2 separate regions of the Homo sapiens genome follow, and region 1 is linked to region 2. Evidence: fine-mapped expression QTL. A gene starts in region 2. The other region holds a variant in brackets. All regions are shown on one strand. Distances are from middle to middle.

Region 1 (5,395 bases), 400 kb before region 2:
GGTTTGTCATATATGGCTTTTATTATTTTGAGGTGTATTCTTCTATACCTAGTTTGTTGAGCATTTTTATCCTAAAGGGATGTTAGATTTTATAGAATGCTTTTTCTGCGTTTATTGAAATGACCTATGGTTTTTTATTTTTAATTTTGTTTATATGGTGACTCACATTTATTGATTTGCGTATGTTGAACTACCCTCATATCCTTGGGATAACAATCCCTTGATCATGATGTATTATCTTTTTCTTATATGTTGGATTCAGTTTGCTAGTATTCTGTTAAAAATTTTTGCATCTATGTTCATCTGGGATATTAGCCTACAGTTTTCTTTTTTTTTATTGTTGTGCCCTTGCCTGATTTTGATATCAGGATGATATTGCTTTCACAGAATGAGTTAGGGAGAAATCCCTCCTCTTTGATTTTCTGAAATAGTTTTAGTAAGATTGGTGCCAGCTCTTTTTTGTGTGTTTGGTAAAATTTGACTATGAATCTGTCTGGTTGTAGGCATTTTTTGTTATTGTTGTTGGGAGATTTCTTATTACTGGCTCTGTAAGGCTATGATAAGCAAAACAGCATGGTACTTGTATAAAAATAGACACATAGATGAATAAAACAGAATAGAGAACCCAGAAATAAAACCACATACTTACAACCAACTGATCTTTAACAAAGTCAACGAAAATATAGAATGGGGAAAGAACATTCTATTCAATGAATGGTGCTGGGAAAATGGGATAGTCATATGCAGAATGAGCTTGACCCCTATCTCTCACCATATACAAAAATTAACTCAGATGGGGTGGAGACTTAAATGTAAGACCTGAAACTATAAAAATCCTAGAAGAAAACCTAGGAAAAATTATCTGGACATTGGCCTAGGTAAATAATCATGACTAAAATCCCCAAATCACATGCAACAAAAAACAAAAATAGACAAATGGGACTTAATTAAACTAAAGAGCTTCGACATAGCAAAAGAAATAATCAACAGAGTATATAGACAATCCACAGAATGGGAGAAAATATTTGCAAACTATGCCTTCATATTCAGAATCTATAAATAACTCAAAAAACTCCACAAGACAAAAACACCCCATTAAAAGGTAGGAAAGGACATGAACAGACAATTCTTAAAAGACAGACAAGCAGCCAACAAACGTATGAAAAAATGCTCATCCTCACTAATTTTCAGAGAAATGCAAATTTTTTTTCAGAGAAATGCAAGTTTAAACCACAATGAGATACTCTCCCACACCAGTCAGAATGGTTATTACTAAAAAGTCAAAAAAACAACAAATATTAGCAAGGATGCAGAGAAAAGGGAATGCTTATTCACTGTTTGTGGAAATGTAAAGTACAACCTCTATGGAAAGCAGTATGTAAATTTCTTAAAGAAATAAAAATGTAACTACCATTCAACTCAGCAATCCTGAGTATCTATCCACAGAAAAAAAATTGTTATATCAAAAAGTCACCTGCACTAATATGTGTATCACAGCACTATTCACAATAGCAAAGTCATGTAATTAACCTAAGAGTTCATCAACAGATTATTGGATAGAGAAAATGTGGTACGCATACACTATGGAATACTACACAGTCATGAAAAGAATAAATCATGTCTTTCTCAGCTACATGGATGGAGCGGGAGGCCATTATTCCAAGTGAAATAATTCAAGATATAGACAAATATCACATGTTCTCACTTACGGGGGGAGCTAAACAGTGGGTACACATGGACATACCAAAGAAAATAATAGACACTAGGGATGCTAAAAGTGGGGAGGGAGGGAGAGAATAAGGGTTGAAAAATTTCCTATTGGGTACAGTGTTCACTATTCAGGTGATGGGTACACTAGAAGCCCAAACCTGATCATCCTGCAGTATATCCATGTAACATACCTGCACATGTACTCCCTGAATCTATAAACATTAAAAAATTCTGAAAGTTACCATAAAAGACAAGAGTCTGAAGGGTAATTACAACTCAGAGTTTGAGGGTAACTTAATATGGTAAAACTACACTTCA[A/C]TAGAGTCTTACAGTTCCTAAAACAATAAGCCTTATGTTTTTGTATTTAACCCTATAAACAAATGACATAGATGATAAAGTGTATATTATTTTAAAAGTCGAGAAAAACAAGCTCAAGAATTTTAAATAACTTACCCAGATGTAAAGAGTAGCATATCTGAAAAGTTTTACTGTTCCTAGTCTAGTACAATTTTTTCCATTATGTTACTTAAATGAATATGACATATAATTTAATCTCTTAAAATGGGATATAACACGTGGTTAATTGGGACATTGTAAAACTACCCAAGGTACTTTTTCTATAAATGAGAATCTATAAAAATATTTACATACATGCTTGTTCATTAAAGATTAAAATAATGGGAACCTAAAGCATATTATTGCTCCATAGTAAGGAATTAATTGAAGAATTTATTGTGTACTCATACAAGATAATTTTAAGTATACCTTAAGTGATTTATAGGTATGTATATAAATATGTAAATATTCATATGAAATCTTACTTATATCATTCATTTGTTCAATAATTGTGTACCTACCATGTGTTGAGCATGATACGTTGCTAACAAAACAGACAACGACCCCAGGCCTTGTATACATTCTTATAGGAAGTGACAGATGCTAAGTAATAAACATAATAAATAAGCCTATTATATCGATTCTAGAGACGTGAGAAGAAAAAGAGATGAAGTAGAGCCAGATAAGAAGGATCGGTGGTGCTGAGTGAGAAGAGGAGAGCAGGCTGCTCTATTAAGGGGAATCACCAGAAGGATGCTTGAGCAAAGACTTGAGATGAATGAAGAGTGAGCCCTCCTGACACGTTAGGGAAGACCACACCGGTGGATGGAGCAATGAGTGCAAAGCCCCAGGGCAGCTGGGTGTGTGGTATATTCAAAGGACAGCAAATATGCTGGTGTCGGGAGACCAGAGTGGGGAGGGAGAGAGTAGTAAAGGAGGAGTCAGAGAGGAAGAAGGCATCCATCATACAATGTCCCTTTGGACAGTGTAAGAACTTTGGCTTTTATTCTCAGCAAAATGCTGAGCTGTTTGTAGGTTTTAAACAGAGTAGGAACAGGATCCATCTTACGTTTTAAGAAAAGTTATCATTCCAGGTGCTATATTAAGAAGATTACTTAAGGAAAAGGGGGAAAAGTAGAGAAACCAGTTAGAAGGCCACTGCAGTCATCCAGTAAGAAGCGGGATGGGAGTCAAAGCAGTGAAGGTGATGAGTGGTCACATTCTTCATATATTTTTACTGTAACATCAATAGGATTTCCTAATGAATTCAGTGTGGGGAGTACATGAAGTAGAGGAGTCCAGGATGATGCAAGCTTTTAGCTTGAGAAAGTAGAACTTTGGCATTTCTGACAACTGAGATAGAGAAGTCTTTGGATGGAGCAAGATTAGGGGTGTAAGTGGGAGGTCAGGTTGCTCAGTTTGAGAAATGCTGAATTCAAAAGGGCTCTTATCCATTCAGTAGAATGTCCAGTAGATACTTGGAGAAAAGATAATAGAGAGTGATTCTATTTTTATTTTTTCCCACATTGGGAAATTTCTAATAGTCTAAACTGACATTCTAAATTTCATCAATAAGTTCTAAAAAAAATCTTAGATTCTAAATAACACCATAAATCATGAAAATTTATAGCAATCAGTGTTTTATAGAAATTAAAACAATGTCCATGAATATTGAAAAGTTATTTCACTGAAATATACTAAAAAATATTCTGTGGAGAGTTTGAAAAACACTACTTAGAAATAATGATTGGTAAATTTTGGTTATATATGGTGTTGAAGGTAAACAACTCACATAATTTCAAACATTGCTTTATAAATTAAGCTAGTTATTTAATATCTCTAAAATTAAGAAATAGCTTCTTTCGGACTTTATTTGTTCAAAAGGATTATGAAGAGACTTATATTCAATAATAATAAGTAGGCACATCACAAGTAACATTCTGCAAGAGACGCTAAAGAGTAGACTGCAACAAAAAACCAGGTGACTACATTATACTGCTTTGGCAATTACAACCTCCAAACACTAAAAGGAAAGAAAAAAATATCACGGAACATTTTTAAAGACAATTTTAACACATTTTAGCCATTCACTAGGTTCTTATATCAGACTGAAAACCAAAAGTTCGCACCTATCTAAGATTGCAGGGCTAAGATTACTATTCTGAAAGCTTTTCAACCACTTTAGAAGCCTCTCTAAGGTCAACTCAAGCAAGACATTTACACCTATCAGTGCTTTGGCATCATCAACCTGTCTTTTAGCTGTATGGCAATAAACATTTAAAATTCCAAATCCTGCACTTTTGGAAGATGTTCTGGAAATGAAAGTGTGATTTAATTTTAAATGCTGTGTCCTCAAGGAACACTTCTAAACCTTAATAAATATGGGATATAGACATCATCATTCATGGCAGGACACAGTGATCTTATCTACAGGCAATGAGCTGTCTCTATAGAATAGAAATGCTAGACCTTGGTGAACACACAAGAATCAAAGCTGGTCCTAGCAATGGTGCAGAGGCTAAATATATCTCAGCAAACATGCAAGCTCACGGGCCTTAAATGACCTGTTAGCCACACAGACATTTATTGCAGATTCTGATTGCACAGGGTGTGGCCAGTTAATACCAGCTGCACTGGCCTCAGTAAAGGTACAGGTCATTAGCCAGCACAGGCAGCTTCAGGGTACATATGCTTAGTTTGATTTTAATTTTTAACTATGCCTAGTACACCTACTGAAGGGAGAGGAGATCGCCAGCATACGCTGGTGGTAGGTCTCAGGCCCTAATAAGCTAGTGCAACAGAAGTAAAGAATCAGAAAAAGCAATGAAAAAATAAATAAATAAATAAAAAGGGCGGGGCTTTATAGCCCTGTAATACATTAATAGTTAGATCAATGTTTCCTGTTTCAAAAGCATTCATGAGGCCCTAAGCTCACAAATTTTAGGGCACCACCTGGTCAGCCAGCATGTGCTGCCCAAATTATTACCATGCATCCAGAGCTAAGACGGGAATTGTGGAGAGGCTGACCTTGAATTCAAGAGCTTGTCCACAGACCTGTGTATCATCCCTACCACTTGGTCTTCTTTTGGCTCTGCATTGGCTAATAACATACGAGAAAGAAAGATTCTTTCCTTAGGAGGCAGGCTATTTTTAAGCCAAGGCATTTTCATGAGACAATAAAAATAGTTCCTTAGACTCAGAACTGAAAAGGAAGTATGCACGCTCTGTCACTAGATGGGGCCCACACTCAATGCAGTTTTTGGGGTGTCAAAACATATGACTCAAAAAACAACAGAATGAAGATGCTTTCAGTGAAACAAAGGCACTTAGAATAAAGCTGGCAATTGGT
Region 2 (5,395 bases):
AATGCTTGGCTGCAAACGGGGTTGTACTAGAGCCAGACACCAATTAGCAAACTATTGTAGTTATTCAGAGATTTGTGTGACCTGCTCTAGGGAATGGCTACACCCGAGACAGCTATTCTTTCTGAAGCTGGAAGAGACAAAACACAATTTTAATAGAGAACCAGACCATAACTCAGAGTTGGAACCTCAATAAGGCAAATGAAGCACTCATTTCAAAGGGATATCAACAGAGTCAAGATAAATAATGTTTGCGGTGATTTTTTAAATAAGTGCAAAAAATCAATGAAGAACAAAATATCAAAATTTTAAATAATGACATGAACTGAATTTTTTGGGAAAATTTGTGTAAATAAACTAATTCTCCCATGCATTGGGTTCCTTTGCCCCTCATACTTAGGCAATTTCAGTTTTTATGCTCAGCGTTGTTGACCATCTAACTCACCTTGGAAGTCGAGACAGAACACCAGCTGAGATTGACGTTAAAGCATCATCCAGGCGACCTGGTGGCTTTCCTTTGAGAATCCAGCTGACAACAAGTTCAAGCAGCATCAAAGAAATGAAAAATGGAGTTGCCTGGAAAGGAAGTTGCAGAAAAGAGATGCTATTATGTTCCATATGAAATTATTTTACATTTCCTGATTAGTCATTTCAGAATTGAAAGGCCCAGATTTGGGAAGCCCTGCAGGAGATGGTAGACACTCATTTTAGAGGATTACTTCCTACACAGTGGTAAAGAAGTCTAATTATTTTAGACATACACTAAACATGTGCTCAAATTCTATCATCCAATTTGAATATGAAATGTAATCATAGATATAACCACGATAATTATAATATTATAAGATTAAGAGGAACATCTTCCAAATTAGTTTAAAAAATACATTTAGAATAAGGTAGATAATTAGAGGTCTATTGTCTCTACATGTATAATTTAGACCCACTTCAAGAGGCTTTCCTTAAAGATGCACATAATTCTAATTTTTCATATTAGACTTACCAGAACTATTTCTAATGATGAAATTCAAAGAGTAGAGACAATTTTCTGCTTAGAATTTTAGAGAATATGGTAATTTTACATGTTTGCTTAAAACATGATTCAGATTTTATTCATTTGGTTTTGATTTTTGTTTCACATAATAAGAGATGTTTTGAAAGCTCCACTATTGGTGATGGAGCATTGAATTTGGTTTGATATTGCAGTATAAACAATAATAATTTATGAAGATATCAGTGCCACTTTTTTTAACTTAAAAACTCAGAAAGAAAGTGTAATATCTAATCTTGAAAAAGATACGGATTTTACTCATTTGGAAGCTAATCATGAGTTTTGAAGCTTTCTAAACTGAACTCTCAATAACATATTCTATGATGTCATTTTTTTTCTATTTCTGCCATGAACTAGTGAGTGTTGTAGGAATAACTTTGATAGGGTGGGGAACTTCAGTATTCAAGTTCTAATTCTGGATATTTCCACTTCCAATCATAGCCAGGAACCAGAAGTGAAATGTGCCTCTGAGCACTTCAGAGTTTCAAAGAAAACTTGGGTCAAATTCAAACTTAGGAAGTCAGAGCTGGACCTGGTCAAGCTGCATATCCTTCATTCTGCTGAACTACTCTACCAAATGAAAGAGGAAATAGTTTCCCTGGAAGGGGTGGACAAGTGAAAGATTTAAAAATGAAATTGTTACAAAGTTTACTGATGTGGTGTAACTATTTGTCATTGAGCTTCCAATAGCTACATTTACAATGCCATGGAGTCCAGGAAAACTTTAAACTTTTGTTTTTGTCATATTCTGGAGTGACATATAAAAGAGGGAATTTACAGGTGAAGATGGCTATGGATTGTAAGAAAATTCAAGTGGAAATTCTACTTTTGCTTCACGCCTTTAAGAAACTGAATTATTATTATTAGAATGTAATCATTTGAATAATGAAAGTGAACAAAACCCTAAGGAGATTGACCTTACCATTTATTAAGAAAGCAGCAAGAATAAGAGTAGCCTCTTCCAATAAAGTCTCACCTTTTTTACATAATCAGGCACCTCTTCTAATGTTTGGAATGAAGTTTCACTGGGTTTCATCGTGTAAAACAACATGCGAAATCCCTGGGAAACTGAAACATCCTGCTGGGCTTCTGGGTTCTTCATTTCTGCCCTTGTCTGATTCCCAGCTGGAGAATATTTAGGATTCAATGCTTGAAGCCTGAGGCTGAACAAAGAGGACGAGATGTGCAGCTCAGAACAAGCTCTTTGTCAGAGAACAGCTAAAACCAAAGCTCCACTGAGAGCACACTCAACAGCCGATTCTGTGTAGAGAGACAGGAAAATACAAGGATCAAGAACAAGTACAGAGTTCAGTGGGCGCTGGGCCAGAAACAGGGCATGTGGGGGAGGGAAAAGAGGACTCATACCCAAATCAAAGTCATACAGTGCAGTTTGACTGTAGGTGGAGCAAGTTACTACTTAAAAAAGAAGAGAAAAAACATCATAATAGTGTCTCGGAAAGAAAAAAGTGATAACGCAGGTATATGTTCACTCTGAAAAACTGGATAGAAATTCAAGCATCAAGTCACATAGAAAAACCTTTTTTTCTCCTCATTTAGAAATTTACAATGTGTTCAAGCTTGTAGTTTCTTTATTTCCTACAGAGACTGTGTATAGGCGAGCTACTTAATAATAGCTTGAAAGTCAGTAAGCACTGAATATCTGGCTCCTTATTGCCTATCTATATTTCTGTATCTGAATCATGTTATTACCACTTCTGAATGTTTGCAACCAGTTTAGGGGCATTTGGCTTATTACATAATCTACATTATTTAATGGAAAATTGGCTAGTCACATCTTCTCTATTCTTCTTAGTACTTATGGGAACTTTCTGATTAAAGAAGGTGCCAAGATGTTGCTGTGAGACCTGTTTCTGTTTTACAGAAAGAGCTTAAGTGATTGTACCTTTTAAGTAGATTAGAAGGCACTTAATTTATTACATTACCAGTGAATATGTGGAGCTTGCCAGAATAGCCTCAGCTCTTTACCCAAAACAGCTGTAATCATCCTTTAGCTGCCATTTCATCATTTAAAGATGTTTACATAGATCTAATTAAAGTATCAATGCACGATTGTTTTAGAAAAATATAGAAACTATAGATAAGCAATAATAAGCTGCCCAAAACGCTATTAACATTTTGGTACATGTATGGTCAGTTTTGCTATAATGTGATATATCCATTCCTAAAAATCACTATACTGTACAAAATTGTGCAATAAAAACCACGGGACTTGTGAGAAAAAATGTGATTAGGGTAAAATACTCAAAAACTTCATAATGACCCACAAGGAACAAGAAAAAAAGGATGAGAGCCTAATAAAAATGGTAGCACACTTTCACACGTTACATGGTTAAGATATACATAAATACTAAAATAAATATGATGCTTTACCTTGAAAAAGACCTGAAACTTGTTTTGGAAATTAGGCATTGGAAGATTTGCAAACTGCAAGTTACTTTAGCTTGTTGAAATGTGGGTTATCTGAAATCAGACAGAAAGTTGCAATATGACATATGGGTGTCAAGGCTCACAACACACAGGTGAAGTGAGGGTGTTACTATAAGTGGTGGGTGTATTTTGTGCATCCTAAGCCTTTCTGTTTTTCAGTTCAGTTTTTTAAAGTTCAACTACTCTTTTTCACTGAAAATAAAATCACACATGAGCATAGGCAGTATGCTCAAATTATTTTCTGGTATATTAATCACATTGGAACAAATTTAATCTCAAAGCACATGTTATAGCAGAATTGACTGTCCTTTCAGACCATTCCCATTACCAATAAGTACATATGGACATTAATTTTTAATAAAGGTGTCTGGGCGTGGTGGCTCACACCTGTAATCCCAGCCAGTACTTTGGGAGGCCGAGACGGGCTGATCACCTGAGGTCAGGTGTTTGAGATCAGCCTGGCCAACATGGCAAAACCCCGTGTCTACTAAAAATACAAAAATTAGCTGGGTGTGGTGATGGGCACCTGTAGTCCCAGCTATTCGGGAGGCTGAGGCAGGAGAATTGCTTGAACCCAAGAGGTGGAGGTTGCAGAGAGTGGAGATTTTGCCATTGCACTCCAGGCTGGGGGACAGAGCAAGACTCTGTCACAAAAACAAAAAAAAATTTAATAAAAATGATCATAGTAGGCATACTGTTTTATTACCTGCTTTCAAAACAATTTTGGAAATTAACAATGTGATACAAGAGAAAAAAATACAAACAATATAGCTGTATATAAAGTCAAAAGTGGCAGCATCCTTTCTTCTCAATATATGCACACCTTGCACTTCACTTCATAGGGATAACATATCCTCTTGGTGGGGTTTTTTTTTTTTTTTTTTTTTGCCATATCTGTTTTTTCCTAAAAGGGATAGTTATTATCATTATTACTATACAAATACGTTTCTATATACACATAATGGTTCGATTTTGCAATGGACCTTATCAAACATAAGATACAGCAAGTTCCTTCTTGGAGTCAATAACTTACCAGGAACATTTCTTTTTTAGTATATGATTATACAGGTACAGCCTTTTCTTCGTTGTTTTTACTGGCTGCAAAAGTGTGTGTGTGCATTTCAATGAGCAAAACAAAATTATTTCTAACTTTTTAAAGCAGAAGCAATTTTATACAAGAAAAAAGTTGTTACATAGATGATGGGAGAAGTAAAAAACCAAGCAGGAACAAAGAGGTAATCTAGAGATTAGTACCAATAGGAAGCCACTACCATTGTTAAATTGTAGGGACAAATGGAGAAGGTTGTATTAGTAGGGCCCAGGGGCTATGGTCATCTAGGAAAAGTTAGAACCACCATTGGCTTGTCTAGCAAGAGTATTTCCCATGGAGCAAAGCCAATCAAAGCCAGAAATAATACCCATGGCAGAGAGGGAAGAAAGGGAAGTACTATGGCTTCTCCCTTCTTCCTGCCCACCAGTCTCCCAACAGTACTTCCCATTAGGCTATGACATGGTTGGATTTGCGTCCTGGCCCAAATCTCATGTCAAATTGAAATCCCCAGTGTTGGAGGAGGGGCCTCGTGGGAGATGATTGGATCATGGGGGTAGATTGCCCTCTTGCTGTTCTCCTGATAGTGAGTGAGTTCTCAAGAGATTGGTTGTTTAAAAGTGTGTAGCACCTCCCTCTTCTGTCTCGTCCTCCTGCTCTGGTCATGTAAGGCACACCTGTTTCCCCTTCTGCAGTGATTGAAAGTTACTTGAGGCCTCCCTAGCAATTATTCCTGTACAGCCTGCAGAACTATGAGGCAACTAAAACTCTTTTCTTTACAGATTACTCAATCTCAGATTGTTCTTTACAGCAGTGTGAGAATAGACTAATACAAGCTAAATGAGTCAAAAGCC

Direction of the effects. Alleles are on the strand shown, and positions count from the first base shown. SD is a standard deviation of normalised expression in the study named.
In carriers of allele C in region 1, the expression in prefrontal cortex of the gene that starts at base 2,317 in region 2 tends to be lower than with A alone (small effect, 0.32 SD a copy in GTEx).

The links. PIP is the estimated chance that this variant, and not a neighbour inherited with it, causes the effect. A credible set is the group of variants that fine-mapping cannot tell apart.
Region 1: its variant is the best candidate, but not a certain one, in a credible set for the expression of AGMO in prefrontal cortex (GTEx, PIP 0.77).

The regions. Positions count from the first base shown.
Region 1 is chr7:15,163,454-15,168,848 of GRCh38, forward strand. It overlaps a transcript of AGMO not described here. Among named protein-coding and RNA genes, the nearest start is that of DGKB, 260 kb to the left of the region's middle. The variant A/C (reference allele first, on the strand shown) is at 2,029.
Region 2 is chr7:15,559,699-15,565,093 of GRCh38, forward strand. It overlaps AGMO (alkylglycerol monooxygenase), which reads right to left and starts at 2,317. Exons shown (of 13, transcript NM_001004320.2): 1 at 2,022-2,317; 2 at 443-573. The coding sequence starts at 2,147. LOC124901591 (a long non-coding RNA gene) reads left to right here. Exons shown (of 3, transcript XR_007060217.1): 3 at 398-502.